Homo sapiens: one gene and its partners. The protein of the gene in region 2 purifies or fractionates together with the protein of the main gene of each other region. This does not show direct contact. Each region holds a gene or a part of one and is shown on either strand. Other genes may lie near its edges. The genes, in order: PYM1, ZC3H8, KSR1, LYAR and RSL1D1.

Evidence for each region.
Region 1: the proteins of ZC3H8 (region 2) and PYM1 purify together in Homo sapiens (co-immunoprecipitation; one large-scale study listed by IntAct). This does not show direct contact.
Region 3: the proteins of ZC3H8 (region 2) and KSR1 purify together in Homo sapiens (co-immunoprecipitation; one large-scale study listed by IntAct). This does not show direct contact.
Region 4: the proteins of ZC3H8 (region 2) and LYAR purify together in Homo sapiens (affinity purification with mass spectrometry; one large-scale study listed by BioGRID and IntAct). This does not show direct contact.
Region 5: the proteins of ZC3H8 (region 2) and RSL1D1 purify together in Homo sapiens (co-immunoprecipitation; 2 studies listed by BioGRID and IntAct, with this or other methods). This does not show direct contact.

Annotation. Positions count from the first base shown.
Region 1 is NC_000012.12:55,915,303-55,921,451, forward strand, and holds part of PYM1 (partner of Y14 and mago), read right to left. Parts: intron 2,447-6,149; exon of another isoform or gene 1,675-2,446; intron 231-1,674; exon of another isoform or gene 141-230; intron 1-140. UniProt on the Homo sapiens protein: Key regulator of the exon junction complex (EJC), a multiprotein complex that associates immediately upstream of the exon-exon junction on mRNAs and serves as a positional landmark for the intron exon structure of genes and directs post-transcriptional processes in the cytoplasm such as mRNA export, nonsense-mediated mRNA decay (NMD) or translation.
Region 2 is NC_000002.12:112,231,043-112,237,191, forward strand, and holds part of ZC3H8 (zinc finger CCCH domain-containing protein 8), read right to left. Parts: intron 5,654-6,149; coding exon 5,520-5,653; intron 3,195-5,519; coding exon 3,078-3,194; intron 2,330-3,077; coding exon 2,218-2,329; intron 906-2,217; coding exon 796-905; intron 1-795.
Region 3 is NC_000017.11:27,622,202-27,628,094, forward strand, and holds the end of KSR1 (kinase suppressor of Ras 1), read left to right. Parts: exon of another isoform or gene 1-1,112; coding exon 1,113-1,191; 3' UTR 1,192-4,234; downstream 4,235-5,893.
Region 4 is NC_000004.12:4,271,503-4,277,651, reverse strand, and holds part of LYAR (cell growth-regulating nucleolar protein), read left to right. Parts: intron 1-2,882; coding exon 2,883-3,285; intron 3,286-3,982; coding exon 3,983-4,069; intron 4,070-6,149. UniProt on the Homo sapiens protein: Plays a role in the maintenance of the appropriate processing of 47S/45S pre-rRNA to 32S/30S pre-rRNAs and their subsequent processing to produce 18S and 28S rRNAs. Also acts at the level of transcription regulation.
Region 5 is NC_000016.10:11,844,246-11,850,394, forward strand, and holds part of RSL1D1 (ribosomal L1 domain-containing protein 1), read right to left. Parts: coding exon 6,034-6,149; intron 3,562-6,033; coding exon 3,423-3,561; intron 2,599-3,422; coding exon 2,450-2,598; intron 2,358-2,449; coding exon 2,256-2,357; intron 1-2,255. UniProt on the Homo sapiens protein: Regulates cellular senescence through inhibition of PTEN translation. Acts as a pro-apoptotic regulator in response to DNA damage.

The DNA of each region.
Region 1 (6,149 bases), on a different chromosome or scaffold from region 2:
GGTTCTGGCTTTGGCATTTTGGAAATCCCTGGTTATCTCCACAAATACAGCCTCAGAAAAGCACGGTGGTAAAGAGGCCAGACTACAAATTAAACAAAATAAACATTAAAAGCCTCCTAGCTGGGCTTGGTGGCACACACCTGTAATCCCAGCTACTCGGGAGGCTGAGACAGGAGAATCACTTGATCCTGGGAGGCAGAGGTTGCAGATCATGCCATTGCACTCCAGCCTGGGCGACAGAGCAAGAGTTTATCTTTAAAAAAAAAAAAAAAAAGCCTCCTAGAAGAAAAGTACCGTAAGTGCCAATAGGGTTATCAAGATGAGTAAGATGGTCCCAATTTTCAAAAAATTTACAGACTAAGTAAGGAGGAAGTGGGCAAATTAGGCAAGCAAAGCATAAGACAAAAGTAAGAGTGTCGTAAGTATCCTAAGAGATGACAGGAGATAATCAGGAAAACCTCATTTGACACTAAAGACTAGAAAGTAGTAATAATTAATGATAACAACAAATCAGCAGCCAGTATTTCTGCAGGCAGAGAAAAGGGAAAGGGGATAAGAGGAACAACAAAAGCAAAATCCTAGCAGTGGAAAACTCAGTATTTAAGAATGATTAGTAAAGAGTATTTATTAATAAGTAGCTACATTACAGGAGGAACTTTGTATACATCATCCTGTTAAATCTAAACGATAGATAGATATCATCATTTACAGCCAAGGAAACAGTCTTCAAGAGGTTAAACACATGGTCAAGTCTTGGTGCGGTGGCTCACGCCTGTAATCCCAGCACTTTGGGAGGCCAAGGCGGGCGGATCACCTGAGGTCAGGAGTTCGAGACCAGCCTGGCCAACATGGCGAAGCCCCATCTCTACTAAAAATACAAAAATTAGCCAGACGTGCTGGCACATGCTTGTAATCCCAGCTACTCGGGAGGCTGAGACAGGAGAATTGCTTGAAGTCAGGAGGCAGAGGTTGCAGTGAGCTGAAACCACACCAGTGCACTCTAGCCTGGGTGACAGAGTGAGACTCCAGCTCAAAAAAAAAAAAGACATGGTCAAGATCCCAAAGGTAGCACATATCTGTAACCTGAACTCAAGTCTGATGCCAAAGCTTACACACCATCGCACTGCTGTTCCACATCAGCCATACAGCCCAGTTTCACTAGAGGGTATGGGCAAAAACATAGCATGTGATAATACTACATTTAAAAGTAGTCAGCCAGGCACGGTGACTCACGCCTGTAATCCCAGTACTTTGGGAGGCAGAGGCGGGCGGATCACCTGAGGTCAGGAGTTCAAGACCAGCCTGACCAACATGGAGAAAGCCCCGTCTCTACTAAAAATACAAAAATTAGCCAGGTGTGGGGCACATGTCTGTAATCCCAGCTACTCGGGAGGCTGAGGCAGAAGAATCACTTGAACCCGGGAGGTGGATGTTGCGGTGAGCCGAGGTCAGGCCATTGCACTCCACAGCCTGGGCAACAACAGCAAAAGTCGGTCTCAAAAAAAGAAAAAAAGAAAGTAGTCTGAGGTTGGGCGTGGTGGTTCATGCCTCTAATCCCAACACTTTGGGAGGCTGAGGCAGGCAGATCGCTTGCATCCAGGAGTTCAAGACCAGCCTGGGCAACATGGTGAAACCTCTTCTCTACAAAAATTAGCTGGGCATGGTGGCGCACACCTGTAATCCCAGCTACTTGGGAGGCTAAGCTGGGAGGATCACTTGAACCCAGGAGGTCAAGCCAGCAGTAAACTGCAATCACACCACTGTACTCCAGCCTGGGCAACAGAGTGAAACTCTGTCTCAAAAATAAAAAAAAATTTAAAAAGTAGTTTGTCAGCTGGGCGCAGTGGCTCACCATGCCTGCAATCCCAGCACTTTGGGAGACCAAGACGGGTGGATCACCTGAGGTCAGGAGCTCGAGACCAGCCTGGCCAACATGGTGAAAGCCCGTCTCTACTAAAAATAAAAAAAATTAGCCGGGCGTGGTGGTGGGTGCCTATAATCTCAGCTACTTGGGAGGCTGAGGCAAGAGATCACTTGAACCCAGGAGGCAGAGGTTGCAGGGAGCCAAGGTCGCACCATTGCACTCCAGCCTGGGCAACAAGAGCAAGACTCCATCTCAAAACAAAAAAAAATTAATTAATTAAATAAAAAGTAGTCTGTCACAGCCATAAAGAGCAAAATAATGTCCTTTGTAGCAACATGGATGCAGCTGAGGGCCATTATCCTAAGCAAATTAACACAGGAACAGAAAACCAAATACTGCATGTTCTCACTTATAAGTAGGAGCTAAACACTGGGTACTCACGGACATAAAGATGGCAGCAACAGACATTGGGGATTATTAGAGGCGGGCACGGGTTTAAAAACTATCTACTGGGGCCAGGCACAGTGGCTCACGCCTGTAATCCCAGCACTTTGGGAGGCCAAGCTAGATGGATCGCCTGAGGTCAGGAGTTGGAGACCAGCCTGGCCAACACGGTGAAACCCCAACTCTACTAAATACAAAACTCAGCCGGTCATGGTGGTGCATGCCTGTAATCCCAGCTACTTGGGATGCTGAGGCAGGAGAATCACTTCAACCCGGGAGATAGAGGTTGTAGTGAGCCAAGATCACACCACTGAACTCCAGCCTGGGCAACAAAGCAAGACTCCATCACAAAAAACAAACAAACAAACAAAAAAAAAACTTAACTATTGGGTACTAAGCTCACTATCTGGGTGATGGGATCACTCATACCCCAAACCTCAGCATCACATAATTATACCCATGTAACAAACCTACACATTTTCTTTTTTTTTTTTTTCTTTTTTTTGAGACGGAGTCTCGCTCTGTCGCCCAGGCTAGAGTGCAGTGGCGTGATCTCGGCTCACTGCAAGCTCCGCCTCCCGGGTTCACGCCATTCTCCTGCCTCAGTCTCCCGAGTAGCTGGGACTACAGGTGCCCGCCACCATGCCCGGCTAAGTTTCTTTTGTATTTTTAGTAGAGATGGGGTTTCACCGTGTTAACCAGGATGGTCTCAATCTCCTGACCTCATGATCCGCCCGCTTCGGCCTCCCAAAGTGCTGGGATTACAGGCGTGAGCCACTGCGCCCAACCACAAACCTGCACATTTTCTAAATCTAAAATAAAAATGGAAATCAACAAATAGGCCAGGCATGGTGGCTCACGTCTGTAATCCCAGCACACTAGGAGGCTGACGTAGGAGGATCACTTGAGCCCAGGAGTTCAAGACCATCCTGGGTAAGATGGTAAGACCTCCATCTCTATAAAAAATTTAAAAATTAGGCTGGACATGGTGGCTTACACCTGTAATCCCAGCACTGGGAGGCCAAGGCGGGTGGATCACCTGAGGTCAGGAGTTTGAGGCCAGCCTGGCCAACACGGTGAAACCCCGTCTCTACTAAAAATACAAAAATTAGCTGGGCGTGGTGGCACGTGCCTGTAGTCCCAGCTACTTGGGAGGCTGAGACAGGAGAATCGCTTGAACCTGAGAGGCAGAGGTCGCACTGAGCCGAGATTGCACCACTGCACTCCAGCCTGGGCGACAGAGCAAGCGTCCATCTCAAAAAAACAAAAATAAAAAAGGTAGTCCTATCATTTAATCACATTTCCCAAAGCTTTTGTTATGTAAAATACTACTCCCATAAGATATTAAACAGGGGTTATCCCTAAAAATTGTTAAATAAGTTTGGGAAATTCTGGGTTAAACACCAAAAAAGATTTTGCGTTTGTTTTTTTTAACAGCAAGGCTTAAATGAGTTACTATGTTCTTATTCAGGTACATATGCAAGATGGGAATATGGTTTACAGTGTTTCTCAAAATTTGTGCACAGAAACATTATTTGCATTTTATTTTATTTATCTTTGAGATGAGGTCACTGTCACCCAGGCTGGAGTGCAATAGCTGGACCTTGACTCACTGCAGTCTCCACCTCCCAGGCTCAAGCAATTCCTCCCACCTCAGCCTCCCAAGTAGTTGGGACTACAGGAGTGTGTGTGTCACCACACCCAGTTAATTTTTTGTATTTTTAGTAGAGACGAGGTTTTGCCATGTTGCCCAGGCTGGTCTCGAATTCCTGGGCTCAAGCAATCCACCCGCCTCAGCCTCCCAAAGTGTTGAGGTTACAGGCGTGAGCCACCACTCCCGGCCTCTATTTTAGTTATTTATTTTGTGTCACATCTCAGAAGATTACTAGGTGTTTCAAGGATTCATATTTTAGAAAATAACAGCCAATCTTAACAGTATAATTCAAAATATGTCATTTTACCTTAATGTTATATATGCATATGTGCTTAGAAAAACTAGGCTGGGGGCCAGGCATGGTGGCTCACGTCTATAATCCCAGCACTTTGGGAGGCCAAGGCAGGCAGATCACCTGAGGTCAGGAGTTCGAGACCAGCCTGGCCAACACGGTGAAACCCCATCTCTAACTAAAAATACAAAAAAATAGCTGGGCATAGTGGTGCGTGCCTGTAATCTCATCTATTTGGGAGGCTGAGGCAGAATAGCTTGAGCCCAGTTGGCAGAGCAGAGATCGCGTCACTGCACTCCAGTCTGGGTGACTGGAGACAGAGCAAGACTCCGTCTCAAAAAAAAAAGAAAAAGAAAAAAGAAAAACTAGGCTGGGTGCAGTGGCTCATGCCTGTAATCCCACCACTTTGGAAGGCCATGGTGGGAGCACTGCTTGTGAAAATGAGTTTGAGAACAGCCTGGGCAACATAGCTCTATAAAAAAATTCAAAAATTAGCCAGCCATGGTGGCGCATGCCTGTAGTACTAGTACCAGCTACTCAGGAGGAGGAGGCAGGAGAATTGCTTGACCCCAACAGTTAAGACTACAGCAAGCTATGACTGTGCCACTGTACACTAACCTGGGCAACAGAGCAAGACCTTGTCTCTTTAAAAAAAAAAAAGGAAAAGAAAAACTAGTTGCTCATGCCTATAATCCCAACACTTCAGGAGGCCAAGGTGAGAGGATCACTTGAACCCAGGAGTTGGAGACCTGCCTGGGAAACATAGCAAGACCTCATCTTACAGATAATTTAAAAAATCAGGCCGAGCACGGTGGCTCATGCCTGTAATTCTAGCATTCTGGGAGGCCAAGGTGGGCGATCCTTTGAGGCCAGGAGTTCAAGACCAGCCTAGACAACATGGTAAAACACCATCTCTACTAAAAATACAAAAATTACCTGGGAGTGGGGGTGCATGCCTGTAATTCCAGCTACTCGGGAGGCTGAGGCAGGAGAATCACTTGAGCCCAGGAGGTGGAGATTGTAGTGAGCAGAGATCGCACCACTGCACTCCAGCCTGGTGACAAAGCGAGACTCCGTCTCAAAAAAAAAAAAAGAAAAAAAAAGAAAAAGAAAATAACCCTAAATGCCGAAAAAGATGCATGCACAAAAACATTCTAGTGTTCTTATAATAAAAATTCTGAAAACAATCTAAAAGTCCAATAACAGAAGAAAGTAAGATAGGGTGCATGCCCAAACTATAAAACACTCTGCCAGTATTTTAAAAGATGTTTACAGAGTTTTTAATAGCAAGGAAAAACATTTACCTCATAAGGCTAAATGAAAAGGCAAGATATAAAAATGTATATACCATCTGGTTCTGCTATGTTTAAAACAGTTTAGAAAGATATATGCCATATATAACAGCAGACTCTGGGTTGATGAATTAATATTGAACAAAAATTACATAACTAAATTTGCACTTAAGAAGCAGTAATCTGGTAGCAGTGTATCTGTAGAAATGAAACAAGAGAGGGACTGGAAATACGATGACCAGTTTAGGAGGTCACAGTAATATTTGCAGAACAACAGAAACTAGAATTTTAGCAGGCACTTGGAATGGCCCAAGTACTATGCCTGGTACTTGGCCATATATAGTAATTTCTTCTAACCCATACAATGACCCTTACATAATAGTAATAATTATAGAACAATGTGTTGGACACTTTTTATGTGCCAAACATGTAAATTACTTTATTTAAATTTTAATACGCATAATAATCCTGTGTTGCAGGAGTTATTCCAATTTCATTGATGAGAAAACTAAGACTTAGATTCCCAAGGCTATATAGCTAACAAGTACTGTAGATGGGATAAGGGTAACAGCAGTAGGAATAAAAGAATGATATTTTGATAAC
Region 2 (6,149 bases):
CAAATTCATCCTAATAATCATCTAATATTATTTACTACTACTACAGGAACTGAAAAACTTATTTCATATATATCACTTTTCCATATCTATTTCACACAAATAAACAACTAAATATTTGGTACAACTTCTAATTCCACATTAACCATTCATATTTTACAACCTAAAAATATCTATAAACAAGCACCTTTGACTTTGTAATATTTACATATGCTCAAGGGAACATTTTGCCAGAAGATCGTATGGTTGGCTTCAAAAGAATCTTTTAAATTTTCATGTATACTTAGATTAAATTTTTAAGAGACTAGCTCCAACTAACATGAGAAATGAAAGAATACAAATGACTGTAACTTTTCAATAACCTTTTCTCACAGACTGAAAGAATATCTGAAGAAAACATTTTGAAATTACTACTTAACTATTATTTGATGTAATTCTAAAATGTTTATAAACCCGTAACTTGTAACTTTCCTTCCAAGAATCTTTATAACAGGAGTACTATTTTTCTTATTTGATTTGCTTTGTTTAGCTTAGCTTAGCTATTAAAATGGCTAATTATACTGAAGATTTTACATCTTTCCAACTTAAATCAGCAATGAATATACATCTTCCTTTCAGCTACAAGGAAACATATACAAATGAAAAATATTTAAACTGAATTCTTAAGTTATTAGTCCTAATATATCCCATATGCTAACCTAAGAGGCACTCTCCTTAATTATCTTCAAATTCTCATCCTTAGTTCAAACATATTCCTTAAAAAAGAAAAAACAAAAGATTATTAAAAATTATACTTACTTTAGCCAACAATTCTTGTGTTTCAGGAGTCAGTGGAGCATGAGAAAACTTGCAGTATTCTCCCTGATAACATTTTGTTCCTGTATGGTAAAACTTACAAGGATATTCATGTAACCCAAGTGTTAAGGAAGAGAACAATTTTAATCCAATTGAAATAATGTTATTAACTTAATGACTTTATTTTTCCTAAATAAAGACCTCTGTGGCCGGGCGAGGTGGCTCATGCCTGTAGGAGGCGGAGGTGGGCAGATCACTTGAGGCCAGGAGTTCAAGACCAACCTAGCCAACATGGCGAAACCTCGCCTTTACTAAAAATCCAAAAAAATTAGCTGGGCATGGTGGCGCAGGCATGCCTGTAATCCCAGCTACTCAGGAGGCTGAGGCACCAAAATCATTTGAACCTGGGAGGCGGAGGTTGCAGCGAACCAAGATTGTCCACTGCACTCCAGCCTGGGCAACAGAGCAAGATAATGTCTCAAAAAAAAAAAAAAAAAAAAGACCTTTCCTACTAGCAGAAACTGGATTTCTCTATTTAAAGTATGAGATAATAAACTAACTGGAATACATTTAAAAATCTAATTTTAGAAGGACTACATACGTAAATCAAGTTTCTTGGCTATGACAGGACATTTTTTTCCTTCATATCCATTCTTATAATAGAGTACAGGCATGTTTCATATATGAAAGGGGTATATATTTTAAATACCTTGATAAATGTGATCATTTTTAAAGCATTCCTTTGGGGGTGGAGGAATCAAAGTCAACAACGACATATCTTACAAATCTGGATCCTTTGTACATTAGACTTGTTTACAACAGAATAAATTTATATAACTTCAATATTTTCTAGGAAAACAATCCTCAAATTACAATTTGATACTCCTTATATTGAATGCCTGAAGAAAAAAATTTTTTTGTGATGACTAAAGGTGCTATTAACCTAAAATGTTTATGTTCCATGTTTTTACAACTTGTCTGTGCCATTTGCACTGAAGAGCTAAGGCTATTCTGCAAATTAAGGGATGATTAATTTCTACACAGTACAGAATACACAGAAAACAGGTACTCCCAAATTATGTAATCCTTGCCTTTTTATGAAGTAGCTTATTTGAATATAGATTCAATTAATCAGTGTCACAGTAGAAATTGTGATAAGTCTTTCTGGGATTTGAAGAGGTCTCATGGACCCTCTATACCACCCAGGTTGAGCAGAAAGAATCATCATTTGAGAGATTTTCTAAAGAATCCCTCTTTTCTTGCTTATGAAAAAATCCACGTACAATTTAATCACTTTGATACTAAGTTGGGCTTGGATAATATCATTTTGGTATACCTAAAACACTGGTTTCATTAAAAATTTTGCACATTTAAAATGTTCATGTAAATATTTATAAAGTCACCATATCTTGTGATAAAGGATATTATGCAAATACAGACAGTTTTCACCTCTGGTACAATATCCTTGTACATAAAACTTACACATTTCCTTTTTCTTTTCTATCTCTGCATCATGATCAAATTTACACTGGTCTCCCTAGGCCAAAAGAAGGAGCAAGGAAAAGCCATTATTTCTCATAGTCAAGTCATTATGATTTAATTCCTACTAAACTTTAAATAAGCAAATGATTCCAGAAAGAACCAAAGTCTTAGAGGTAGCACATTCTAACTGTTAATAAATTATAACCACATCACATATATCTGCTTAAAATCTTCTTAAGTCCCAAACATTTTTAAACATAAAGCATTTTTTAAAATTATCAGTCGCTCACGCCTGTAATCCCAGCACTTTGGAGGCCGAGGTGCGCGGATCATGAGGTCAGGAGATCGAGACCATCCTGGCTAACACGGTGAAACCTCGTCCCTACTAACAATACAAAAAAAATTAGCTGGGTGTGGTGGCTAGCGTCTGTAGTCCCAGCTACTTGGGAGGCTGAGGCAGGAGAATGGCATGAACCCAGGAGGCGGAGCTTGCAGTGAGCCGAGAATGCGCCACTGCACTCCAGCCCAGGCGACACAGTGAGACACCATCTCAAAAAAAATAAATAAATACATAAATAAAAATTATCTGACTCAGGTGATCCACCCACGTCGGCCTCCCAAACTGCTGGGATTACAGGCCTGGCTACTTTTTTAAACATAAAAGAATACTTCACTAAAATTTTCTAACTGATTTTTTTCCAGAATGAAACAGCTTTAAAAACCTAAAGGTATGAATTAAAAGAGTATCAAACAGAAAGAGCAGTTTTACATTTTAGTAGATTTTTGCTTACACATTTTTATACCTTAATACATTTCCTTTCAAGAAAATATTTACAAATTTGTTTTCCCTTGCGTTCCACTGTATGTTGGTTGATGAATGCCTGACTCAAATGCTGCTGCTTCTCTTTAGGTTTACCATCCTTTAAAAACAAAAACAAAAAAACTAAATGTAAGAAACAGAAAATTAAATATTTTATTCTGTTGCACAAAATTATTTAAACCAACTTCAGAGCCTTAAAGGTGACTCTTCTAAATTGGCCTTCATATGTAAAATTTGGATTTCTGTACACCAGGTTAAAAATGAATGTTTTGTCAGTTTCAACAGCATTCCATCATTGAATATTAATGTTTGTATTGATTTGAATATTTTATGATACATTGCCTTTATTTTGTAAAAATGAATGAAAAAAATTTTTTAAATGGGCCAGACACAGTGGCTCACGCCTGTAATCCCAGCACTTTGGGAGGCTGAGGCGGGTGGACCACTTGAGGTCAGGAGTTCAAGACCAGCCTGGCCAACACAGTGAAACCTCATCTCTACTAAAATACAAAAATTAGCTGGGAGTGGTGGTGTGCGCCTGTAAGCCCAGCTACTCTAGAGGCTGAGGCAGGAGAATCGCTTGAACCCAGGAGGCAGAGGTTGCAGTGAGCCAAGATTGCACCACTGTACTCCAGCCTGGGCAATAGAACGAGACTCCATCTCAGGGAGAAAAAAAAAAAAATTAAATGAAAGTGATAGTATTTATGATTAAAAACCGAAGTCTAAGAACGAAGATCTTTAGAGTGGTAGAGACAAAGTTGGAAATCAGAGTGAACCAAAAGCAGTGGAATCTATAGTTTCAATGAGATGCTCACTGGGTGTGAGTTGAGCACACTTATCAGCTCAAATTAACACACGCAACTAGAAATACACCGTCAAAGATGGTGATAAAGGTATAAAAGGAGATTTTTACATTAAAAAAAGGAAGAAAATCTTATAATACATTTAAGCTCTTCAGAAACATAAGGTACTTTTTACATGTTAACTTATGCTACAGATTACAGCTTCTGTATACCAAATTTTTGCATACAGTTTTAGGAATACAGTATGTACAAACAAGGGAGCTGACTGTACAGTCATTTATAATAATGTCAAATTTCCACTTAGCACCATCAAATTTATGTCTTATAAATATCTGCCAGTTTAAATCTTGTTTTATTTGGTAACATTATTAAATTCTATATATATGTTTAGAATTTGTTCCTTGTGTAGAAGGGCTGTCAGCTTTGGCTGAATAATCATTTGAGCCATGTAAATCAAATCAAAGAGAATATTGACAGGGGGTTGAGAAACAAAATCCTAGTCCTGGCTTGGCCCTGTGTGACTATGGGTAATTACCTGAACCACAGGGCTTCAGATTCCTCATTCATAAAATATGGAGGCAGGGGACAGACTGTATATAAATGTTTTTCAATCTAGAATATTTGGCATTTCTAATATTTTACCACCCCTTACCCTTGTCCCATATGACCAAGCCTAATAAAAAAAGTTGCCATCCAGTTAAAAGCCCTCAGAAAAGTGGAATCCAGAAGAGGTACTTATTATTCTACCCTGCTTACATCTACAGACCAAGGAAAGGGAACTTCTAAAAACCAAAATCAAAATACAGGAAGGTGGGGAGTGGGGAGATTCAGTAAGGCCAATGCTCAGAAATATTGATTTTTAATTTCCAGAGGGAGCCAGGATGAGGGACTTTAGTAGTAAAAAATTTGTAAGACTCAGTGGCCTTTGAAATGCCTCATGACTATTTGATCTTCTCTGGGCTTCCCATTTTTCCCGAGTCATTGATAGTATAACACTAAAAAAAAAAAAAAAAAAAATCAAGGAGTGACCAGGCACAGTGGCTCATGCCTGTAATCCCAGCACTTAGGGAGGTGGTGGGTGGTGGGAGCCGAGGCAGGTGGATCACCTGAGGTCAGGAGTTCAAGACCATCCTGGCCAACATGGCGAAACCCTGTCTCTACTAAAAATACAAAAATTAGCCGGGCATGGTGGCGGGCGCCTGTAGTCCCAGCTACTCAGGAGGCTGAGGCAGAAGAATCACTTGAACCCGAGAGGCGGAGCTTGCAGTGAGCCGAGATCGCACCAGCCTGGGTTACAAGGCGAGACTCTGTCTCAAAAAAATATATGTATAACAATAATAAAAAAAATCAAGGAGCTTGTGTGCATATATTCAGGAACAACAGTGAGAACGCTAAGGCTTAAAAGTGGTGCTGGCAGCTAATCAGTGAGAAAAAGAAAGCTGCAATAAGAAGGAAGAACACAGAGAACCCAGTGACAGTAAAAGGACATCTTCATCCGAAAACCGATTCTGTGGGATGCTTCCACCTCTCCATATCACATAGCACTTCTTGTCACTGAAGTATAAGATCAAGTCCAAAAGCATGCAGGGGTCAGGTATTCCTAGAAGCATATATTCCAATACCTCTTCCTGTGAGCCGCTGTTCCTCAGCAAAGCATTTGATCCTTTGTTTCCAGGGCCAGGCCATTTTCGCTTCATTTTCTTCTGTTTGCCATTCTTGTGACCAGCTTTAAGATTTTTATTTTTTTGTTTAGCAGCTAAAAACAAAAAATTAATTTAAAAAATGACATAAAGTTACAATAGCAGTTTACTTTTAAGAAGTACGGGGCCAGGTGCAGTGGCTCATGTCTGTAATCCCAGCTCTTTGGGAGGCTGAGGCAGGAGGACTGCTCAAAGCTAGGAGTTCAAGGCCAGCCTAAGTGTTCAAGGCCAGCCTAGGCAGCCTAGAGATCTTGTCTCTACAAAAACATAGCTGGGTGTGGTGGTGCACGCCTGTAGTCCAGCTACTCTGGGACTATAGGCTAAGGCAGGAGGATTGCTTGAGCCAAGGTGTTCAAGGTTACAGTGAGCTATGACTGCACTGCTGCACTCCAGCCTGGGCAACAGAGTGAGAACCTGTCGCAAAACAAATGGAAAAAAGAAGTATGATTTACAATAATTGAGGAAAGTTCTCTAAGGCTCAATAAGTGAAAACTGGCATGATAGTGATCAGTTTTCCTAGAAGCTCTGGGACTAAGGGACCAAAAAGAGAAT
Region 3 (5,893 bases), on a different chromosome or scaffold from region 2:
TCTAACTACCTTCCTGGACATGACTGATTGCTCCCGTGTTCTTCTGAGGGCTGGTCTTGTTTTTGTTTGGGTGGCTCTGTCTCACTGCTAACACCTTAGTGAGATGCCTTCCACCCTCCTGAGCACACCAGCCTCCCACTGGGTGTGTGCCTAGTGCGGGGCGGGCGGAGGTTGGGAGGGTGTTGGCTTGGCTTTTAACCTGTGGGGATTTTGTCCAACAAGGAGTGGAATGATTTCAGAGCTGCCCTGAGGCTGGCACCCTGGTCACAGGAACCCTCTGCGCTGGCTCCTGTCTCAGTCCCCTCTGTAGAGTTAGATCAGAAGACACAGAAAGTTCTGTGGCCATGAAAGATACCAGCTTGGAAGGGTTGTGTCTTCAGTGGCACCCTCAGAAAAATTGTCTTAAAGCAAAGAGGTACCTGGCTCCAGACAATTTTTCTGATGAAAACAAAGTCTCTGCCCCGTCCCCACCCTGCCACCCTGGCAAAGTTACTTCCTTTACAGCTGCCCAGTGTACCATAGACCAGACCCCAGGTCAGCATTTGTCAAGAGCATGGCTGCTGAGTCCCCTGTGGCAGTCAATGCACTGTTTACCAAATGCAGGTTTCTGTTCTCCCTCCCCAGCAAGACCTGCTGAACCCAGATCTCTGGAATGGGGCCCTAGGAATTTGCATTTCAACCTGCTTCCCAGGTGGCCCTGATGCACCCCAGTATTAGAGTTTATTGCTAAAAGGAACATGCCCTGTCACTCCTGGTATCCTGGGAGTCATGTTTCTCTTCTCTCTCAGTTCTACTTGGAGCAAGAGCTTTCCTGGGCTGCAAATGAGAAAACAATTCCTAGGAACCCACAGCAGTACTGAGCATGCTGGGAGCTTGGGACTTGGAGATGAATGAGCCACCGTTGCTGCTCCAAGTAGGACTACTTGGAGTGTAGCTGAGGCCTTGGACGCAGTATGACCAGGGGCAGCTCTGCCAGGGCTGTTGGCCAATCAGTCATTTTCATTTCTTGTTGGAGGCCAGGTCCTCTGCTGAACTCATTTCCTAGCTAGTGTTACCCTAATTCTGATGAAGATCAATGGGGCTATAATTCTTGTTTTTGTTCCTCTTTGCAGCATTAACAGCAGCAAAGTTGTACCCCGGTTTGAAAGGTTTGGCTTGGGCGTCCTGGAGTCCAGTAATCCAAAGATGTAGCCAGCCATATGGTTTTTCGCTGCTGATCTCTTTCTTTTTAAAATGTGTTTCTGAAACATCCCAACAACCACCACGACAAAAAAACACTGCCTGCCCAGCGCTGCAAACCAGGAGCACACGTCCTAGATTCAGACTGTTGGCCATAAACCCCACTCGGGAGATGGAGCTGCACCTGCTATTTCTTAAAATGACACCACCAACAACCAAACCTGTCATGACAGACAGCAAATGTTTACACGTATATTTCTCCTGAGTGAACCTGATGTTTTACAATAGGTAATAATAAAAACAGTCTGTGCAGATGCACTGGCACTGACGGCCAGGATGGCGGAAATGGCCATCCCCTCTGAGGACCTTGTAGGCGGTGAGGGACCCATGCTGGGCCAGAAGGAAGACAAACATGGTAATTGCAGCTGTTCTTGGGGTAGGGCGGGGAGCCCAGAAGGTCTGATCTGGCCTCTGCTTTTTGGCCCAAGACTCCATCAGGGAAATCTATCTAGGGCTCTCCCCTTGTCCTTTCAAAGGGATACTGCCCCTTCCTCGTCTTGCAGAGGAAACCCTGGCTAGGAACTGAGCTAGTTTATGGAGTCTGGAATTCCTGGAGAGCTTGGGTTCACCTTCTCACCCCTGTAATCCAGGCTGCTCCTGCTGGAAAAGTAGAAACAGAATCCAAAAAAGGTCTGGACTCACCCGGTGGTTCCCAGCCAGGGTTTCTGCTGCAAGGTGAGGAAACATCCATGGCTTGTACAGATGTGAGTCTTTGATGAAGCCCCCAGGCAGGCACCAAGGTGATGGGACTCAGGGCCTTGGCTTTTAGATACATCCCAGTCCCTGACTGACATCTGACCATGAGGGCTGGATGGGTGGGAACAAGGAGGAGTAGATGGCAAAAGTACCTGAGCCCACTTCCCAGCCACAGGGTGACCCTGGCACTGTAAAAACCCTTTGTCAGTCATGCCAGAAGGTTCTAGAACTGCCCACCTCTTCCATTTCAGTCCTGCTGAAACCCCTTAGCCTATTTCCGACTCCTCTGTCCATGCTCTGAGTTCAGCTGGGCAGTGTGTGGGCTATCACCCCTTTCATTTAGACCTACCTAGCTGGCCCCCATCTGCAGAGCCTTCCTTAGCACCATTAGGCCTTCTACTTGTGTCCATTTGAAGCAGGAGGGGCTGGATTTGGAAAAGTCTTTGAAGTGAGAGCACCACGCTTGTCTTCGTTAGAAACTCTTAACTGCAGAAAAAAGTTCCAGATGGCAAGGGAGCCCTTAAGTGGAGATTAGGTTGCATTAGACTCCAAAACCAGAAAGGAAAAAGGGTGATGGGAGTGGAGACGTGATTGGATTCAGGCCCAGAACCTGTGACCATGCTCTGAGCTCAGACTTGGGGAGGGAGGGGTGTGGCTCCCACCCCTTCCAGTTAAGACCTGCCTAGCAGAGCCCCAGTCTCCAGCCCCTTCCCTAGCACCAGAGTCTGGTCAAAATGCCACAGAAAATGAGCTGCTCTGCCAGCAAGCTGTGGAGCTGCCTCCTCTCCAGGCCTGGCATCCCTTGGTCAGCCCCTCCTGGGAGGGCACAGCCGTATTACAGTGCCAGTGTGCCTGGCCATCAGCATCTTCACCCTTCCCAGTCTGTGTGGGGAGGCTGTAAACCCCGTGGATTCAGCTCCGTGTGGAGTTTCTGTGCTATGGTGGGACTGCTCATTTTGCCCCATCATCCCTTTGGCCTCCCACACACCTGCCCCTTCCCAGGGATCACGTGTGTCTCCAGCCTTTCACCTTTCTATTGCAATGGTGGCCTTTGTCCAGGCAAGAGCAGGCCTGATGGATGTACTGGTGAGCCCCACAGTTGGATGTCAGCTCAGCCGTCCAACTGGGAGGAACAGTAGGCTCAGTTCCTCCCTGACCCCTGACACCAGGCCGCAGTGGGCATGCACAGGCCCACAGAAAGTCAGTCTGGGTTTTGCTTTTCTCGTGAGCATCACAGTTAAAGAAGCGCTCATTGAGCAACTACAGTGCACTTGGTCTTCTGCAAGTGCTGGGCACCTAGAGATAGGAACAGTCATGGTCCCTGCTCTTAAGGAACTGATGACCTGGTGGGGCCCTGTTGTCTTCAAGGAACCCAGAAGCCACTGGGCCCCAAAGGTGGAACTGAAGGACTGGGGGCAGCTGGCTCTCAGCCTGCCACCTCTGCACTGCCTGCCTTTAAAGAACCCCACCCCACCCCATGATGGCCCCCTCTGTTCCCCTTGTATTTCAGTGACTGTGAATTGAGGTTAGGAAGGCACACCTGCCCTTCTGTGTGCTCTCTCCACACGAAGGATGACAGATACTGTGAATTCAGCCCTCACGGCCAACTGTGAAGGGGATGGAGAAGGCTGGGAGGGCTCGGGGAGAGCTCTTAGGGGCTGCGGAAGTCCCCACGGGGGTCTGAGAGTGGAGCCCAAGCTTTGGCCCTCCAGGCATCCCCAGTTTCCAGCCTCACCTCTGAAGCCCTGCTGCCTTTAACCACCAGAGCCGCAGCCCCCTGGGTTTCTGTCTAACTCGAAGTCTTGAATCCTAGCTAGTTTGGGGTTGTGAGCAGTGTGTAGCAAAGTTGATCTCTCCATGTCACCAAATCAAAACACCCTCTGTCATCCTACGGCATTTCCTCTTGAGGTCACAGAGAGGAATGGCAAGCCCTGGAAACCTGTGTTATTCTGTGTTGATTTGGTGTGGGGGGAGGGTGGAGACGTAAATGTGAAGCCAGTTGGAGTTTGTGCTATGCAGCAGTGTTAGCCAGGATCTCATCAGCGTGCAAACCTAGCATCTTCTGTGGCCACAAGCCACACACTTGCTTTTTTTGAATGTGATGTAAAATTTGTACAGTAAAGTTTTTATATTTTCTATCAACTACATTTGTCTTCCAGACATGCTATTAATTTAAATTAAAATGGTTAGTATTAACAAACATGCTGTATCGGGTTTTTTTGCCACTGGCAAGAACATGCCCTCTGTGCTAAGCCAGGCCTGGGTGTCTGGAGTTTGTGAATAAAGTTATACCAAGGTGTTCTGGGGCTTGTCTTTGCTTTGGTCAGTTCCAGCTGAGTCCTGGGGACCATTTGGATGGGTGGCATGGGAATGGATAGGTCTGGGGTGACTGAACCCCTGGTCTATAGATTAAGGAGCTCCTTCCAAAGGAAGAAGTTATGCCAGGACCTCAGTGGCAGGTGTTTCTAAACAGATGGAGGAATGGAGAAGGCACAGCGTCAATGGCCCACAATGCGCAGAGGAAGATCATCCAGGCCCCAGCAGCAACAAAGCCATGAGCAGGCCCAGCATCTCCTGAGCTGGAGATGCCTTAGCCTTATGGAAGCCTTGGAGGGATGAGGTGGTGTTCATCTGAATCCAATATCTAGGAGCCCCTCATTGCCAGTTATATATACAGATAGGTGGAGAAGAGGTACTTTCTAAACACCATCTCACTTTAATCCTCACAAGGCCATGAGGTAAGAATTGTGATGTTTCAGCTGAGGAAAATGAGAAACGGAGAGGTTAAGGTATTCACCCAAGATCACACAGCTGCAGGGTGGCCAATCCAGGACTCAGGCCACAGCTTTCACTCCAGAATCTCTCCAGAAGTCTAGGAATTTGCTGGTCAGACATTTACTGAGCACCTACTATGTTCATAAGACAGTGCTAGGTTGTGGAGCATTTTCCAGGATAGGCCGCGTGGTAGGCCACACATTAAGTCTCAATAGATTTAAACATAACATACAAAGCATCTTCTCCAACCACAATAGGATGAAGTTAGGCAGCGGCACTAGATTCTCATAGGGGCACAAACCCTATTGTGAACTACACATGTGAAGGATCTAGGTTGTGCGCTCCTTAGGAGAATCTGAGTCTAATGCCTGATGATCTAAGGTGGAAAAGTTTCATCCTGAAATCATTGTATATCCCTTTCCATCCGTGAAAAATTGCCCTCCATGAAACTGGTCCCTGGTGCCAAAAAGTTTGGTGACTGCTGCCTTAAACTACTACTGGATTTACTGAGTGAGGCAAACCAAGTACTGTTTTGTCATAGTCTGTTTACAGGAGAGAGTTGCACTGTTAATTTGCCATTAGGAAGCAGTTAGAACCATATATCTGACTTTATGGAGGTAGAATACGCTCAAAGAGAATGTTCTCAGTGGGGGGGATGTGCATGCATGTTTTAGTGATTAATGTGGTTCAGTACGGCTGTACCAATACAATGAGGTTTCCAAAGGGAACTGGACAAGACGACCCAGGGCCCCCTGCATTGTACGACAGGACTCAGGTGTCTGCGGGCATCACTGACTGCCCTGCCGAGGCCCTCTGTGCTGGAGGTGTCACTGCAGATGGAAGGATTCCTTCTTGAGGAAGTCTACTACTGGCGAAGGTGAATGGGTCTGGGCGCAGGATCAGTGCAGTCCAGGAGTGACTCTAAAGGTGCTGGTGTGTGGGCACTACGTGCGGAGCTCAGCCCCAAGTCCTTTTCATGCATTAGCCCATTTAATCCCCACAGCATCTCTCTAAGGTTCACATTCATTTGCCTCATTTTATGGGTGAGGAAAGGAAGCTTGGAGAAATTAAGGAACTTATTGAAGATCACACAAGAATTAAATGACAGGGCCAAGATTCAAACGTGGGCTATTTGTACTATCTATAGAATTGTATGTCTGGCCCACATTTTGTTGACCACTCA
Region 4 (6,149 bases), on a different chromosome or scaffold from region 2:
AAGAAGCCAGAGGCATTGGGAGGCCAGGACTGAAGGAGGTGCTCGATTAGGAAAGAGTCAGGGCATCACAGAGGAGACCACATTTGAGGAGAGTGTGTAATGAGGTAAAAAGAAGATGGGGAAGAATTGGTTCACCTATTTATTGAGCAGCTACCAGATGGGTAAATGTGTGCCTCCCTCCCTCTCTCCCTGTGGCCGAGGAGTTGGTTTAGACAAAGAGGCAAGGCACCAGCTGAAAATCTGGTCTGGATTGTGTAGAAGGGATGCCAGGGTCTCAGGCTCTCAGTGGTTAAAATAATATTTTATGGCGGGCACAGTGGCTCATGCCTATAATCCCAGCACTTTGGGAGGCTGAGGCAGGCAGATCAGTTGAGGTCAGGAGTTTGAGACCAGCCTGACCAACATGGTGAAACCCTGTCTTTACTAAAAATACAAAAATTAGCTGGGTGTGGTGGCAGGCGCCTAGAATCCCAGCTACTCGGGAGGTTGAGGCACAAGAATCATTTGAACCTGGGAGGCGGAGGTTGCAGTGAGCTGATATTGTGCCACTGCACTCCAGCCTGGGTGATAGAGCGAGACTCAGTCTCAAAAAATCATAATGATAATAATATTTTACTAGAAGATATCGACAGAATTGTAGGACAGATGTGAAGTTTCTTTGTCCCCTTCTTCCTAAGTCTATTTCTGAAATCCTCCTCTGCCCTTTACCCCATGAGCCTTGACAACCTGATGCTGCTAAGCCACTGCTACTGAGAAAACCAGGTGGTTACATCAGTATCCATTTTCTTTTCTTTTGAGACGGAGTCTCACTCTGTCACCCAGGCTGGAGTACAGTGGCACGATCTTGGCTCACAGCAACCTCTGCCTCCTGGGTTCAAGTGATTCTCCTGTCCCAGCCCCCCGAGTAGCTAGGATTACAGGCGCTTGCCACCACGCCTGGCTAATTGTTGTATTTTTAGTAGAGACAGGGTTTCACCATGTTGGCCAGGCTGGTCTCAAACTCCTGACCTCAGGTGATCTCCCTACCTCGGCCTCCCAAAGTGCTGGGATTACAAGCATGAGCCACCGCACCCGGCCTACAGTATCCGTTTTCTTTTTTTTTTTTTTTGAGACAGAGTTTCATTCTTGTCACCCAGGCTGGAGTGCAGTGGCGTGATCTTGGCTCACTGCAACCTCCACCTTCCGGGTTCAAGTGATTCTCCTGCCTCAGCCTCCCCAGTATCCATTTTCTAATGCTGCTCTTGTAGCCAAGGATCGAGCCTTAAGGTCTGAGTCCTGAGTCCTTGCACTCTAGTGAAAGCTTGTCCTTTTTTATTTGGTCCAGTTTTGAGGACATAGTCCTTGCTACCCACAATCTCCCAAAGGAGGAAGACTGTAGGTAACTTACCCTGTCCTTTGGCTAGACTAACAGAGACGGAATTTGAACCCCCGCCTGCAGGTGCATCAGCTCAGTGGTTTCTCACACCTGGAAGCAGCCACTGGCCACTCTCTTTCCCTCCAGAGGCATCAGGGAACATGGAACAGTTCAATGAATTGCTCCAGGTCATCTCTTGAGAAAGGGGCTCAGGGAGGGAGTTCAGGAAGGAATGGGACTGAACTTGCTGATGTCACTGTTTAAAGTAGGCTCTATGTGCTGATTTTAATAAGGTAATGCAAGGCCTGGCGCTGTGGCACACACCTGTAATCCCACCACTTTGGGAGGCCAGGTCGGGCGGATCACCTGAGGTTGGGAGTTCAAGATCAGCCTGGCCAACATGGTGAAACCCTGTCTCTACTAAAAATACAAAAATTAGCCAGGTGTGGTGGTGCATGCCTGTAATCCCAGCTACTCAGAAGGCTGAGACAGGAGAATCACTTGAATCTGGGAGGTGGAGGTTGCAGTGAGCTGAGATTGCACCACTGCACTCCAGCCTGGGTGACAGTGAGACTCTGTCCCAAAAAAAATACATAAATGAGGTAATGTATTTAACAGGGGTAACCATTAGAGAGACACCTCCATACGTAAAGAATGGTGACCCCGTCTCTACAGAAAATAAACAATTTTCCGGTTTTGATAGCTTGCGCCTGTGGTCCCAGCTACTTGGGAGTCTGAGGCAGGCGTGTTGCCTGAGTCTGGGAGCTGGAGGTTGCAGTGAGCTGAGATTGTGCCACTACATTTCAGCCTGTGCAACAGAACAAAGCAAGACCCCTGTCCCCATTAAAAAAAAAAAAAGAATGATGAGAATGGTGACCATTCTTCTAATGGTAACTTTCCAGTCTGAATAATGATGATAATAACAGTACCATTTTCTAAGGCTGATAATTTACAAAACTCTTCACACACAATGGGCTGGTTTATTGGGCATGTGTTATGCTAATAAGCACATGACGGATCTTTCCTCGTTTCATCCGTCCGTGTGTGAGGTAGGTATTACTACCTTTCATTTTACAGATGAGGAAATAGGTTTGGAAAAGATAAATGACTTGCCCTTAGTCACCTGACTAGGAATTAATAGAACTGGAGCTTGAACCCAGGTCTGCAGACACATAACATCCAGTGGTTTCTACCACCCCTAAGTACTCTTCTCTTATCTAAAAGGTGAATAGTGAGCTGGAATGAAAGGTCTTATCTTCAGCGACATAAGGATTCTTCACTTTTCCAGTGGAATGAAAATGTCTGTTCTGTGCAGACAGAGGGGTGTGGACTGGGGGAAGTGGTTTCCCATTTTGTATATTTACTGCTACATTTTAGCTGTTGGTGGGGGTCACAGTTATAAAACGATAAGGGATTAAACCAACCGTTTTTCTTGAACAGTTTATGTAGTAGGCCCAGGCAATAACGTGACAACTCTATTTACACATTTAAAATGAATATGTGTTTCTTGCTTTTGCTTAATGATAAGGAACCAGTCAATAAGGAACAGGATCAACGGCCACTCCACCCAGTGGCAAATCCACATGCAGAAATCTCCACCAAGGTTCCAGCCTCCAAAGTGAAAGACGCCGTGGAACAGCAAGGGGAGGTGAAGAAGAATAAAAGAGAAAGAAAGGAAGAACGGCAGAAGAAAAGGAAAAGAGAAAAGAAAGAACTAAAGTTAGAAAACCACCAGGAAAACTCAAGGAATCAGAAGCCTAAGAAGCGCAAAAAGGGACAGGAGGCTGACCTTGAGGCTGGTGGGGAGGAAGTCCCTGAGGCCAATGGCTCTGCAGGGAAGAGGAGCAAGAAGAAGAAGCAGCGCAAGGACAGCGCCAGTGAGGAAGAGGCACGCGTGGGCGCAGGGAAGAGGAAGCGGAGGCACTCGGAAGGTAAGTGGCTAGCTCACGCTCTGGGATTCATCTGAAAACCGGGAAAGCTGTGAATTTGGGATATTTAAGCCTGTTAGACCTAGCGTTTTGTGTGCGTGTGTGTGTGGTTTTTTTTTTTTTTGTTTTTTTTGAGACGGAGTCTTGCTCTGTTGCCCAGGCTGGAGTGCAGTGGCACGATCTCAGCTCACTGCAACCTCCACCTCCCAGGTTCAAGCGATTCTTCTGTCTCAGCCTCCTGAGTAGCTGAGATTACAGACGTGTGTCACCAGACCCAGCTAATTTTTGTATTTTTAGTAGAGATGGGGTTTCGCCATGTTAGCCTGGCTGGTCTCGGACTCCTGACCTCTGGTGATCCGCCCCCCTCGGCCTCCCAAAGTGCTGGGGTTACAGGCATGAGCTACCGCACCTAGCTAGACCTTATGTTTTGAACCAAGTAAGGGAACGAGCATAAGCTTTGTGGCCAGGCAGAGGTGGGCCCTGCCCAGGCAAATGACCTCACTTCTCAACTCCTTTCATCCCATCTCCAGCATGGAGGAGGATAAAACCCTCCTGGGGTTTTATAAACCGGGGCTGGGCAGCTTGGAGAAGAAATGAGATGATACGTGGAGTTTGCCTAGCTCGCATAAGGTCTCATTAAATGGTAGCTGCTAGCGTAAATGCAAAATCTTCTTTAAAAAAAATCTTTCCAAATACTTAGTTGAAACAGATTCTAAGAAGAAAAAGATGAAGCTCCCAGAGCATCCTGAGGGCGGAGAACCAGAAGACGATGAGGCTCCTGCAAAAGGTATATCACTGCTGTCATTTGAGGAGCACGGCTGGGCACAGCGGCTCTCGCTGATAGTCCCAGCTACTTCAGAGGCAGGGGCAGGAGGGTCACTTGAGCTCAGGAGTGTGAGGCTGTAGTGAGCCATGGGCGTACCACTTTCAAAAAGCGAGAGAGAGAGAAAAGAAAAGAGAGAAATACACGGTCCCTTGTAGGTTGGGAGAGGGGCCGAGAGATGCCCCCTTCTGGGGAAGGAAGGTGTAATGTGGGCACTTCTAGTAGGGTCTTACCCTCCAGAGGTATATATAAGAATTTGAAAGTAAAATCAGTTCTCTAGGGTGTGTGAGTCAGTCTTACAGTGCCTCTCACCCACTGTCTTTAAGGAGAAAAGTAAAGCAGTCTGGTTTGGAAATGTATGTTATCTTTGAAATTTAAATAAGCCCAATATAGCTTTCTGAGACCCGGTTCCCTTTCGCTCCTCCCCAACTCTCTTGCCCCTGCCTTTCACTGTTCTCTTAGAAGTCCCCTGAACTGTGCCCCTGCCCATCTCTGGGCCTGTTTCTGGGGTCTCCTTGCTTGTATCCTCAACCTCAGAATCCAGTCCCTGGCCTTCACGGGCCCTCTGAAATGCTGTCTCTTACACAAAGCTTCTCTCCTGCTTCTTCAGGCCTGAAGCACTCATACCTGTCGGGAGGTGGCAAGTCGTCATCTCTCTGCCACCTCCCCCAACCCCCAGGATCCTGCAGTTCAGAACAGGTCCAAAGACTCAAATGGGCCTGCAGCTTTATTAGCAGAGTTCAGTGACTGCCAGCATTGGGTTAGATCTCTAAGCTTAAAACCCCCTTCTCAACTTAGTAAACAGTAGTGTCCCCATATCTGTGGGATGGAAAATTCCAGAAATAAACAATTGATAAGTTTTCCATTGCATGCTGTTCTGAGCAGCATGGCGAGATCTCTTGCTGTCCTGCTGTATGCCTTCTTCACCACAAGAAGGGTGAGGATAGGACAATAAGATATTTAGAGAGACACAGAGAGACCACATTCACATAACTTTTATTATAGTGTATTGTAAAATTGTTCTATTTTATTATTAGTTATTGATAATCTTTTACTGTGCCTCATTTATAAGTGGAGCATTGTCATAGGCATGAATGAATATTTAGGGAAAGACAGTATATATAGGGGTTCAGTACCATTGTGATTTCAGGCATCCACTGGGGGTCTGGGAACTGTCCCCTGCAGATCAAGGGGGACAACTGGAATGGTTATTTTTGTTGTTGTTGTTACATTTTTTGTTTTGAGATCCTTGTAGACTCACATGCAGTTGTAAGAAATAATGGAGACTCAGGCGTCCTTATGTATCCGCGTACCCTTTACCTTGTTGCCACCCAGGATAACACTTTACACAACTGTAGTACAGCATCTCAGCCGGGATGTTGACATGGATACGCTTCCATTTCCATCGCCATTGCGCAAGGCTGCCTCCTGCTGCCCTCTTGTAGCCACAGCCACTTCCCTCTCACCCCCACCCCCTCCTTAGCCTCTGGCAATCACTAATCTGTTCTTCATTTCTGGAATCTCCGAATGTTCTATGAATGGAATCATACAGTATGTAACCTTTTGAGACTGACTCTTCGCTCAGCGTTTTTCTCTGGAGATTCACCCAGGTTGCTGAACTGACCAATATTCATCTTATTGGTGAGGAGTATCCCGTGCTGTGCGTGCATCACAGTCCTTTCATCATTCACCTGTGGAGGGACACCTGGGTGGTTTCTAGTCTCTGGTTATTAATGAATAAAGCTGCAGTAAACATTGATGTGCAGGTTTCTGTGTGAACTAAGTCAGTTTTTCTGAAGCGAATGTTCAATGCTGTGTCATACAGTAGTTGCATATTCTTTCTTTTCTAAGAAACCACCAGCTCAATAACTAATGCTGGCGAGGATGTGGAGAAAAAGGAACGCTGGTGCACTGTTGGTGGGAATGTAAATTAGTACAACCACTATGGAGAACCGCTTGGAGGTTCCTCAGAAACCTAAGAATAGAGCTCCCGTCCAATCCAGCAGCCCCACTGTTTGGGTATATATTCAGAAGAAAGGAAATC
Region 5 (6,149 bases), on a different chromosome or scaffold from region 2:
GCTGGGGAAAGGTAAGAGAGGAAATAAAGAATGATTTCTTTTTTTCTCAATTGTCTGCAACTTTCTTTAAGCTGTTGCTTTTGCCTTGGAAAATCCCCAGTGGCAGGAGACTGCTGCTCCTTTACCTGCCTTCATGGTACCATCTTCTTCTCCCAGATACTCATGGGTCCCATAAACAAGGCCTGAACTTCTAGCCAACCACTTCCATGAGCCACTACTTTGACATTAGCCTTTAACCAAAGGGGTAGGGGTCTAGGCTCCGTGACCAACTCTTCTAGGCTACTTCATTACACCTGATGAAGGGATTCCCAGCAGCAGGCTAAAGACAACACCAGAGACCACCTGTCCTGCCCACCAGTACCCTGCTCTGCTCTACCTGGAGACACTCCCCTGGGGTCAGGCCTCCCTGGTGAGCAGAGGCAAGAAGTCTGTGTTGTTTTCTGCCGACTGTGTCCACTGGGTCTGCACGGCTCCTGGGGAATCTCTGGGTGGAAGGGCAGTGGCCTACAGCTCTGCCTTACTGGCAGCTAGCCATCTCCACACCGCAGTCAGCAAGTGCAGTACTTCATAAAATGTATTTTCAATACATTTAAAACCTGCCCTACCTCCCCAAGCTGATACACTGCCAATAATACAAACTTAAGTCACTTCTCAGCCTAATAAAATAGCCTGAACCGCATCCTTTGCTCAGCCAGAGGTTGGAAGCAATCACTGCCCTAAAACATCTGTTCTAGTAGGTAAGACTAGGTGTGGGGGCTCCGCCTAGCTCAGTATCCAGGGTAAGGTTAAACCAATATGACAACACACACACCAAATAGGCAGATGAACAGGATAAGTGCTGAATTCATTTAATAGGAAGTTAAACCAAGAATGAGGTGGATCTTCACGTTAAGGGGTAATATGGTGCTTTTAAAGGACAATCTGAGGCCAGGTGTGGTGGGTCACGCCTATAATCTCAACACTTTTGGAGGCCAGGACAGGAGGACCGGTTTTGTCTAGGGGTTCAAGTCTAGATGGGGCAAAATAGTGAGACCCCGCCGCTACAAAACATTGAAAAATTAGCCAGGTATGGTGATGTGTGTCTGTAGTCCCAGCTACTCAGGAGGCTGAGGTGGAAGGATTGCTTGAGCCAAGGAGTTGGAGGTTGCAGTGAACTGTGACTGCACCACTGAGTGCAGTGGCACGATAAAGGACAAGCTCAAAGCCTAGAACTAGTCATGTTCTCCAAGCATTCATCTTACTCTCCTTGCTTTTCTTAGTATCTGGAGCTGCCCCGTCCAATGCAGTGACCATCAGCCACTAGCCACATGTGCCTATTTTAAATTAACTAAAAATTCAGCTTCTAACACAGTAGCCACATTTCAAGTGCTCAATAGCTACATACAAATAGTGCCTACTGTATGAGACAGCACAGATGCAGGCCATTTCCATCACAGTAGAAAGTGCTATCAGACAACATTGTTCTAGAGAACTGAACTTTTTTTTTTTTTCATTTAAAGACAGTCTTGCTCTGTCATTCAGACTGGAGAACAGTGACAAGAACATGGCTCACTGCAGTCTTGACCTTCTAGGCTCAAGTGATCCTCCTGCCACAGCCTCCTGTGTAGCTGGGAGCACAGGGATGCACCACCACACCTGACTAATGTTCTTGATTTTTCTGTAATTGGCTGGGGGAGAGGGTCTCATTATGTTGCCCAAGCTGGTCTTGCACTCCTGGGCTCAAGCGATCCTCCTGCCTAGGCCTCCCAAAGTGCTGGGATTACAGGCATAAGCCACTGCACCTGACCCGAGAATTGATCACTTCTGAGGAATAGATTTTAGTTTTAAAAAAGGATCTGGAGCCATTAACAAAATCTTTTTAAAAAGGCCAGGTGCAGTGGCTCACGCCTGTAATCCCAGCACTTTGGGAGGCCAAGGCGGGCGGATCATGAGGTCAGGAGATCGAGATCATCCTGGCTAACTCGGTGAAACCCTGTCTCTACTAAAAATACAAAAAGAAATTAGCCGGGCGTGGTGGCAGGCGCCTGTAGTCCCAGCTACTCGGGAGGCTGAGGCAGGAGAATGGCGTGAACCCAGGAGGCGGAGCTTGCAGTGAGTCGAGATGGTGCCACTGCACTCCAGCCTGGCAGACAGAGTAAGACTCCATCTCAAAAAAAAAAAACAAAAACAAAAAACAAAACAAAACGAATAAGTATATATAAAATCATTGTCAAATACAAGATTAAAAGAGGCACACATGAATGCCTTTTACCTACCTGCAAGAACCACTTTTAGAAATGTTTAAGACTGTTCCACCTATACAGTCATTGATCTCTCTTGATAAATTCTTGGACAGAAGGTTTACAGATACTGGAACTCTACAAAATAAACACACAGGCATTCAGAACACAATGCATACACACCTAGAAGCTTCATGCTGCTAAAGTCCAGTCATTACTAAGAAACTTACTTCTTTCTTTGATAGAAATGTCTCCCAATGAGTGAGGGTAAGAGCCGCCTAATTCTGGCATCAGTAAGGAAGAAATCAAAACTGCTCAGAAGGCGGAGCTTGGCTTCATAGGATTTATATTCCTTCTTTAGAGTTTGGAGGGAGATAATCTAGGAAGTATAGAGAAGAATAAAAACAAGAAGTTAGGAATCTAAACAAGGAGAAGAAATACTTAGGCAACAATTTGGATTTGGATTTAAAAATGTCCTAGAGCCATGCCTCTATACTTTAATGAACACTTGAGGGCCTAAAATGTGCCAGGCACTACGCTACATGCTGGGAACACTGAGACAAATGAGAAAAGACCCCAGCTAAAGCAACTTAGATCTAGGTGGGCAACATATATATATTATTATACATATGTTGCTGTATGTGCTTACGCCTGTAATACTAGCCCTTTGGGAGGCCGAGGTGGGTGGATCACCTGAGCTCAGGAATTCAAGACCAGCCTGGCCAACATGGTGAAACCTCGTCTCTATAAAAATATAAAAATTAGCCGGGCATGATGGCAGGTGCCTGTAATCCCAGCTATTCGGTAGGCTGAGGTGGGAGAATAGCTTGAACCTGGGAGGTGGAGGTTGCAGTGAGCCGAGGTCCTGCCATTGAATTCCAGCCTGGGCGACAGAGCGAGACTCCAAACAAACAAAAAAACTTAGATACCTTAGATCCAGAGGGTAATAAAGACAAGTACACCAACTACAAAACAGCAAATCAGAGAAAAACAAGATGCTGTGGAAGTACAGAGGAATGACACGAGCCACCTCTTTTATAATTTGCAAGATATAAAAGCTACTGATGTACACGCCACCACAAATTAAATTAAAAAGAGAAAAGTAGAAGAAAAATACTAGGAAATATAGCAATGTATTTGTGATACCATTTCGCCTGAATTAAATCCTCTAAATAACTTGAAAATATTAACCAGGCTTCCTACCTGAGAAACGGTTTTAATTCCATGCTTGTTTAAAAGCTTTCTATAAAACTGTTCTGTCTTTTCAGGAGTTGAATTGGGTTCATCCTTCGTAAATAAACAGATATCTTCTGAATCTGATCGAATACTATGAGGCAAGGTCCTACAAAATACGTGAAAAGAAACCGAGGAAAGCATTATTACACACATTATGCATGTTTGTATCACACAGAATACGCGATAAACTTAGTGTTATTTAAATAACTTTTAGTCATGCTAGTTAAGCAAATAATGCACCAAGAACAACACTTAAAAATACATTTCATGGCCGGTAGTAGTGGCTCAAGCCTGTAATCCCACACTTTAGGGAGGCCAAGGCAGATGGATCACCTGAGGTCAGGAGTTCAAGACCAGCCTGGCCAACATGGTGAAACCCTGTTTCTACTAAAATTATAAAAAATTAGCCAGGCACGGTGGTAGGTGCCTGTAATCCCAGCTACTTGAGAGTCTGAGGCAGGATAATCGCTTCAACCCGGAAGGTGGAGGTTGCAGTGAGCCAAGATCGCACCACTGGACTCCAGCCTGGGTAACAAGAGGCAAACTCCGTCTCAAAACACAAAAACAAAAAACAAAACTCACTTTCAATGGCAAGTAAATCACAAAAACACACAGGCCCAAATATCAATTAACACTTGGGATACAACAAGAATTAAAATATACTTAAAGACTTCCAAATGCTTGCATATATAATTATTATACATATGTTGCTGTATGTGCACACGTACTGTAATGCGCTATAAAAACCTAGCTTAATCAGGACAAGCCTGGTTCAGAATTTTACCTTCTTTAAAACTCTTAGCTCCATAAACATAATAACTCTTTCTTCTTTTCCTTTTTTTGAGACAGGGTTTTGCTCAGTACCCAAGGCTGCAGTGCAGTGGTGTGATCATAGCTCACGATAGCCTCCAGCATAGCTGAGACTCCAGGCACGTACCAGTTGGGTGTAGGCCCAGCTAATTTTTGTATTTTTCGTAGAGACAGGGTTTCGCCACATAGCCTGGGCTGGTCTTGAATTTGTGGGCTCAAGCAATCCACCTGCCTCAGCCTCCCAAACTGCTGAGATTACAGTGTGAGCCACCACACTCAGCCAACATAACTTTTTTTTTTTTTTTTGAGATGGGAGTCTCACTGTCGCCCAGGCTGGAGTCTCTGCAACCTCTGCCTCCTGGGTTCAAATGATTCTTGCACTTCAGCCTCCCAAACAGCTGGGATTACAGACGCCCACCATCATGTCTGGCTAATTTTTGTATTTTTAGGAGACATGGGATTTCGCCATGTTGGGTCAGGATGATCTCAAACTCCCAGGCCTCAAATGATCCACCCACCTCACCTCCCAAAGTGCTGAGATTACAGGGATGAGTCACCATGCCCAGCATAACATAACTTTTAAGAATTGAAACAGCCCAGGCATGGAGGCTCATGCCTGTAATCCCAACACTTTGGGAGACTGAGAGGGAGGACTGCTTGAGCCTGAGTTCGAGACCAGCCTGGAGAACACAGTGAAACCTCATCTCCACAAAGATTTCAAAATTAGCTAGGCATGGTGGTGTGCACCTGTAGTCCCAGCTACTTGGAAGGCTGAGGTGGGAGGATCACTTGAGTCAGGTCAGGGAGGTTGAGGTTGCAGTGAACACAGATCTCACTATTGTACTCCAGCTGGGCAACAGCGCAAGATCTCGTCTCTTAAAAAAAAAAAAAAAAGGAGAGATAAAAGAATCGAAACCAAAAACATGGACTAAACCAAGAGGGACCAGCAAACACAATTATGCCACATCTTACAGAAAATAAAATACAAGGGTTTAACTCATTTCTTATGCTTACAACCTATGTTCTGAAGAAGCATTCTGTATAATCACCATGGATTTCTTTTCCATAGACAGAAATTCACTGCAGTTTTTAATAGTCTCTGTACAAAGGAATAAATTGTAGCCCCAAAGAATTTTTGCTTGACATGGAAAGATAACAGTTTCTAATAAAAAAATAAAATAAAATAAAGCTGTTTAACTTATTCCACCTTTATTCTTTCGAACACCACGTTTTCGATTCAACAGACCTGATTACGTTAGCTGTCCACCAAGCTCTAAGAAAACTGGTGAAATTTCTAGAAAATTTTAGCACATCTGAATTTCTACGGTTCTTTTATTTTTTATTATTTTTTATTTTTTTGAGACAGAGTCTTGCTCTGTCGCCTAGGCTGGAGTGCAATGGAGACATCTCCGCTCACTGCCACTCTCCTGCCTCAGCCTCCCGAGTAGCTGAGATTACAGGCACCCGCCATCATGCCTGGCTAATTTTTGTATTTTTGGAGAGACAGGGTTTTACCATGTTGGCCAGGCTGGTTTTGAACTCCCGACCTCAGGTGATCCGTCCACCTCGGCCTCCCAAAGTGCTGGGATTACAGGTGTGAGCCACCACATCAAGCCTCTATGGTTCTTTTGGACATAGTTGTTTTACTTCACGTCAGATTTTTATTATAAGTTTGCAAAGTTTCCATTAGTAACCATGATGCAATTGTTCGAGTTACAAAGAATAAACACACAGATAAAAACAGCAAAGGTAGAAAATCACAACTTACAATCTGACCCTCAGTTCTTTACTTGGAATTTTCCATAATACCACCATTAAAAATAAACTTTCATTCTCATTCAAAAGCAACCCATAATTGTTTTTCCTGGACTTGCAATGCGTCAA